Regions from separate parts of the Homo sapiens genome. Here region 1 is linked to region 2. Evidence: fine-mapped expression QTL. A gene starts in region 2. The other region holds a variant in brackets. All regions are shown on one strand. Distances are from middle to middle.

What was found. PIP is the estimated chance that this variant, and not a neighbour inherited with it, causes the effect.
Region 1: its variant is the best candidate, but not a certain one, in a credible set for the expression of ING1 in blood mononuclear cells (TOPMed, PIP 0.78).

Annotation. Positions count from the first base shown.
Region 1 is chr13:110,660,101-110,663,003 of GRCh38, reverse strand. The region is part of intron 9 of CARS2 (cysteinyl-tRNA synthetase 2, mitochondrial); the gene reads left to right. Among named protein-coding and RNA genes, the nearest start is that of CARS2, 45 kb to the left of the region's middle. The variant G/A (reference allele first, on the strand shown) is at 1,677.
Region 2 is chr13:110,712,057-110,714,881 of GRCh38, reverse strand. ING1 (inhibitor of growth family member 1) reads right to left here and starts at 1,182. Exons shown (of 2, transcript NM_198219.3): 1 at 597-1,182. The coding sequence starts at 732. It also overlaps a transcript of CARS2 not described here. RefSeq lists silencers at 1-255, 346-635, 796-985, 996-1,345, 2,344-2,512 and 1 more and enhancers at 2,016-2,065, 2,666-2,755.

The sequences.
Region 1 (2,903 bases), 52 kb after region 2:
CTATGCTGCTGACACATGGAATGTGAATTTTCGTGTGAATGGAAAACAGGCACACCCACGGAGGGCTCTGGCTGACATAGTTTGAACTCCTCCTTTGTCTTCTGGCCTGTCTTTAAAGCCAGATTTAATTTAATTGCAAAATAAATGGAGAAGAATAGTATCCAGATCTCACCGCCTAAATAGCAAACCAGTGAAAGCTGTACCCATCAGATTTAGGATACACCAACAGGGACTGCTCCTCACAAAATAATTTGTATATAGTTTCCTTAAGTAGAATTTTTCCGTTTTATCCTAGGCAAAATTTCAAACCGATAGAAAAGTTGAAAGAAACATCACTATGGCTCCACCCAGATTCAGTAGTTGTGATGATTTTGCTGTATTTGCTGTGTAGGATCTTTTTCGCCTACCCAGCTTAGATTCTCCCACCGGGGAGCCTCAATTAAATTGGTAAATTAGACTCTGGCCAAAGACAGATTAGCAAGAGAAAAACAAAGAGAAATGTGTTAGAGCGTGCACGGCACACGTGGAGGTGGAGCACAGGGTTGCATGACACAGAGGAAGGTTGGAGCCCGGGGCCACGGGGTTGCATGACGCAGAGGGGGTCCAAACCCAGCCACGGGGTTGCATGGTATGCAGTGGGGTCGGAGCCTGGCCATGGGGTTGCATGACGCAGAAGGGGGTCCGAAGCCGGCCATGGGGTTGCATGACGCAGAGGGGGGTCGGAGCCCGGCCACGGGGTTGCATGACGCAGAGAGAGGTCCGAACCCGGCCGTGGGGTTGCATGACGCAGAGGGGGTCCGAACCCGACCATGGGGTTGCATGGTGCAGAGTGGGTCGGAGCCCGGCCACTGCAGGGACCTTGCTTTATTGAGCTTCACTTGACCGCACTTCGCAGATGCTGTGTCTTTACAGATTGAAGGTTTGTGGCAGCCCTGCACCAAGCAAATCTGTTGGCACAATTTTGCCAACAGCATGTTCTCACTTCCTTTCTGTGTGTCATGTTTGGGTAATTCTTGCAATATTTCAAAGTTTCTCATTATTAAATCTGTTATGGTGATCTGTGGTCAGTGATCTCTGATGTTACTGTTGTAATTGTTTTCGGGCTCCATGAACCACATCCATGGAAGACAGAACTTAGTATGTGTTGTGCATGTTCTGACTGCTCCACCAACTGTCCATTCCTTTAAATCTGCCCCTCCTTGGACTCCCCTATTCCCTGAGACACAACATTATTGAAATTAGGCCAGTTACTAGCCCTACAGTGGCCTCTAAGTGTTCAAGTGAAAGGAAGAGTCACACATCTCTCACTTTCCATCAAAAGCTAGAAATGCTTAAGCTTAATGAGGAGGGTATGTCAAAAGCTGAGACAGGCTGAAAGCTAAGCCTCTTGCACCAAATATTTAGCTAAGTTGTGAATGCAAAGGAAAAGTTCTTGAAGGAAATCAAAAGTGCTATTCCAGCGAACACACGAATGATTAGCAAGCAAAACAACCTTATTGCTGATAATGGAGAAAGTTTGAGTGGTCTGGATAGAGAAGATCAAACCAGCCACAACATTCCTGTAAGCCACAGCCTAATCTGGAACAAGGCCCTAACTTTCTTCAGTTCTATGAAGGCTGAGAGAGATGAGAAAGCTGCAAAGAAAAGTTGGAAGCTAGCAGGGGTTGGTTTGTGAG[G/A]TTGAAGGAAAGAAGACCTAGCTAAAATAAGTGATGAAGGTGGCCACACTAAACAGCAGATCTTTCGAATGTAGATGAAATTGCCTTCTATTGGAAGAAGATGCTGTCTAGGACTTTTGTAGCTAGAAAGAAGTCAATGGCTGGCTTCAGAGCTTCAAAGGACAGGCTGACTATTGTTAGGGGCTAATGTAGCTGGTGACTTTAAGTTGAAACCAGCGCTCATTGACAATTCAAAAAATCCTAGGGCCCTTGAGAATTACCCTAAATCGGCTGGGTGCAGTGGCTCACGTTTGTAATCCCAGCACTTTGGGAGGCCCAGGTGGGCAGATCATGAGGTCAGGAGTTCGAGACCAGCCTGGTCAACACAGTGAAACCCTATCTCTACTAAAAATACAAAAATTAGCTGGGCGTGGTGGTGGACACCTGTAATCTCAGCTACTTGGGAGGCTGAGGCAGGAGAATCACTTGAACCTGGGAGGCGGAGGTTGCAGTGAGCTGAGATTGTGCCACTGCACTCCAGCCTGGGCGACAGCTAGACTCCATCTCAAAAAAAAAAAAAAAAAAGAATTATGCTAAGTGTACTCTCCCTGTGCTGTATACGTGGAATATCAAAGCGTGTATGACAGCACATCCATTTACAGCATGGTTTACTGAATATTTTAAGCCCACTGTTGAGACCTACTGCTCAGAAAAAAGGATTCCTTTCCAAATATTGACAGTGCACCTGGTCATCCAGGAGCTTTGATGGAGACATACAATGAGAGTAATATTGTTTTTATGCTGCTAACAGAACATTCTGCAGCCCATTGATCAAGGAATAATTTCAACTTTTAAGTCTTATTATTTAAGAAAAATATTTCATAAGGCTATAGCTGCCATAGATAGTGATTCCTCTGATGGAGCTGGGCAAAGTAAATTGGAAACCTTCTGGAAAGGATTCACCATTCTAGATGCCAGTAAGAACATGTATGATTGATGGGAATAGGTCAAAATATTAACATTAACAGGAGTTTGAAAGAAGTTAAGTCCAACTCTCATGGTTGACTTTGAGGGGTTCAGGACATCATTGGAGGAAGTCACTGCATATATGGTGGGAATAGCAAGAGAACTATTGGAATTGGAAATGGATCCTGGAGATGTGACTGAACTGCTGCAACCTCATGATAAAAGTTGAACAAACGAGGAGTTGCTTCTTATGGATGAGCAAAGAAAGTGGTTTCTTGAGAT
Region 2 (2,825 bases):
GTGTCCAGCTCCAAGTGAGGGCCGGAGGGGGCTGGGCGGGGGCGGCCGACCTACCCCGAGCGGAGTACTACCCGGTACTTTATGTAACACTCAGATTCGGGACTGAGTGGGGGGCGACGAAGAAGGGCCAGAGGAACGGCGTTGCCCGGGACCGAGGCACCGGGTCCGCGGGAACCCCGGCCCACAGCCGCCCTCCTCCTGCAGCCCCGTCTCGGCGCCCTATAGCCCCAGGCGCCGGCACATCCCTCCATCTCGCGCCGTAATCTGCACCCCCTCCTAGAGGACGCGGCTTGGACCCGCCGCCCCCTCCCCCGCAGCACCCGCCTCATCACTTCACTACAAAGAGCGCTTTGGTCGCGCAGCCTTGCAGCGAGACCTCTCGCGCCTCCTTCCTCCTCCGTGTCCCGGGCTTTGCACACAAGGACCTTGGCGAATCAAAGGCGCTCCAGACCTTTTGTTCCTGCCCCTGCCGAGGGCCGCCGCTGCGGAGCCGGCCGCTTCCTCCGGTCCACGGCAGGACCGGCCCGGCTCCGCGGCGCGCCCGGACCCGCCGGGAAGGAGGCGGCCGCCCCCGCCCATCCATCACCCGGCCGTACCTTGGTATTTCGCGTCGATCTCCCGCATCAGCGAGACATTTCTCTGCAAGTCGAAAGGCAGGGACTCGATGGAGTCCAGGTAGTCCTCCACATAGTTCACCAGGTGGAGCTGCTCCCCGTTGGCAGGACTCAACATGGTTCACCCCGGAGGTCCCCGGCGACTCGGCGCGGCTTTCCGCTTCCTCCACCCCCCGCCCCCCTCAAAAAATAGCACTGCAAAATGCAAAGCCCTCGCTCTCCCGGCGCCCCCCCGCCGGCTCCTGCTTCGGCCCGGCGGCTACATCTGCCGAGCCCGTCCGCCGCCTCCGGGTCCGCGGGGACCCCAGCGCCTGAGGGCGCGGGCCGCGGTGGCGGTGGCTCCCGGGCGCACGCCCCGGCCGGCGGCGCAGGCCCCCTCTCAGGCGGCGGGGCTGGCGCCGGGGGCCGCGCGTACGAGCGCGCACACACCGGCGGGAGAGGGCCCAGCGCCGCGGCCGCCGCTGCCCACTCGCCCACTGGGCTGGGTAGAAGAGAGGAGCGGAGCGGGCAGCGGGAAGGGGCGCGCTCCGCTGGCCGCCGAGCCGCACTTGTCCAACGTGGAAAACCCAAATACCAGTTTCAAACACTTGGGAAACATTCAGCCCCGCTGCGCAGCGCGCATGCGCCCCGGCCCCCTCCCCCGGCAACGGCCCCGCCCCCCGCCGCATTCACGCCCCTCACCGTCCCAGGCCCTGGGGGCTGCGGGCTCCAGGCCGGCCCTCGCGGGGGCGTGGCCTTGCCTGTCACTTTTTCCAGAGGCGAGGGTCGCGGAGGGGACAGCGTCAGGGCCGCTGGGGTGTGGACGGCGGGCGAGGCGCAAACTTTACTAGGAGTTTTTGGCACTTGGAGGCAGAGCCTGTTGGGCGGCACAGCACGCCCGCTGGGAAACGCAGGGGAGCGGCCTGCTTCGCTGAAAACCCGACCAGGACCTAACGGGCCGCGGGACAGAAACCTCCGAGACCATGGTACACAGCAACTACCGCAACTCGCTCCTCAGCCCCTGACTCTTCGTCCCCGCCCCACAGAGCAGTATAAGTAGGGCCCGAAACAGAACTGGCAACCGCAGTAGCCAATCTACTTGCCAACATCACTTTGACAGCCCAATCACGATGAAGAGGAGGCGGGGAGACCGTGAGTAATGCCCCCCGGACTCTTACTACTAGAAACCCAAGTCCTCCGGGAGGCGGAAGGAAGGGGAGGGCCGGGCACGGGCGGAAGTGGCGGCGCATGCGCACTGGCACCCTCTCGGTGTCCTTTGAGCTGCGGCCGCAGAGTGCGCGGGAGACCTACCCATTCCGCGGCCGGACCACCACTCCCAGCAGCCTAGGCGGCTCCCGCGCCTGCGCCATCCGTCACCGCCCTCCCTTTGTGTCGTCTCCCGGTACTCAGTTTGGAACGGCTTGGAGACAAAGGGGCCTGAGAGGGAAGCTGCTTCCTAGTGCCGAGCCCCAGAAGAGGTGGATAGGCCCGAGGGGCGCCTTCCCTAGGCCTTATCTCTTCCCGCCCTGTGTCATGGACACCGTTCTCGGAGGCCGCTCCCCACACTTGGAAAGGCCGCCCACAGTATGCAGACACCCGGTCGGCCGGCGTCCTGAGGCCATTCAGCTCCCCGGACCGCCCTCCCCCGCGTCGCCCCTCTACCCTCCCAAAGCTCCCGGATTTTGGGCTTTCTGAGAAGCCTGGACGCCACGCGAGCCCGTTGCCTAGGCGACCGGCCCCGCGCGCCGGCCCCCCCCCTTCCGGCCAAAGGGCCCGCCCCTCCTGGGCGTGGCCTCGTGCCTTTGTGCACTTCCCGCCTGGCTCTCTGGTTCCGGGGCGGCCTCGGCTTCGGCCTCCGCCCCGCTGCGGCCGCCGCGGGTCCCCTCCGGGGTGGCCCCGAGAGCTGTGTTCGCCACGCTTGGCTGCCTGCTTTTCTCTGATTTTCTTCCGCCTTGGACCCTGCTCTATTTGCATTGTCTTTTTTTCAGCAAGTCGGAGAACGGTGCCTTGTCAGTTTTCACCTTTCTCACTGGACTTTCTCTTTTCCGGAGAGCCGGGTTGGTGGTGCTGCCTGTGTATTCCACGAACTAAGCCCTGTCCCCAGCCCTTGCAGTGTTTCTGTATCAACTCCACGCCAGCGCGGTTCTCCATTTTTCTTAGCCTCTTAATTAGGACAGGGTCGGATTTCAGCTTTTATCCACCGGGTTTATCCTGTTGCAAAGCAGAGTACAC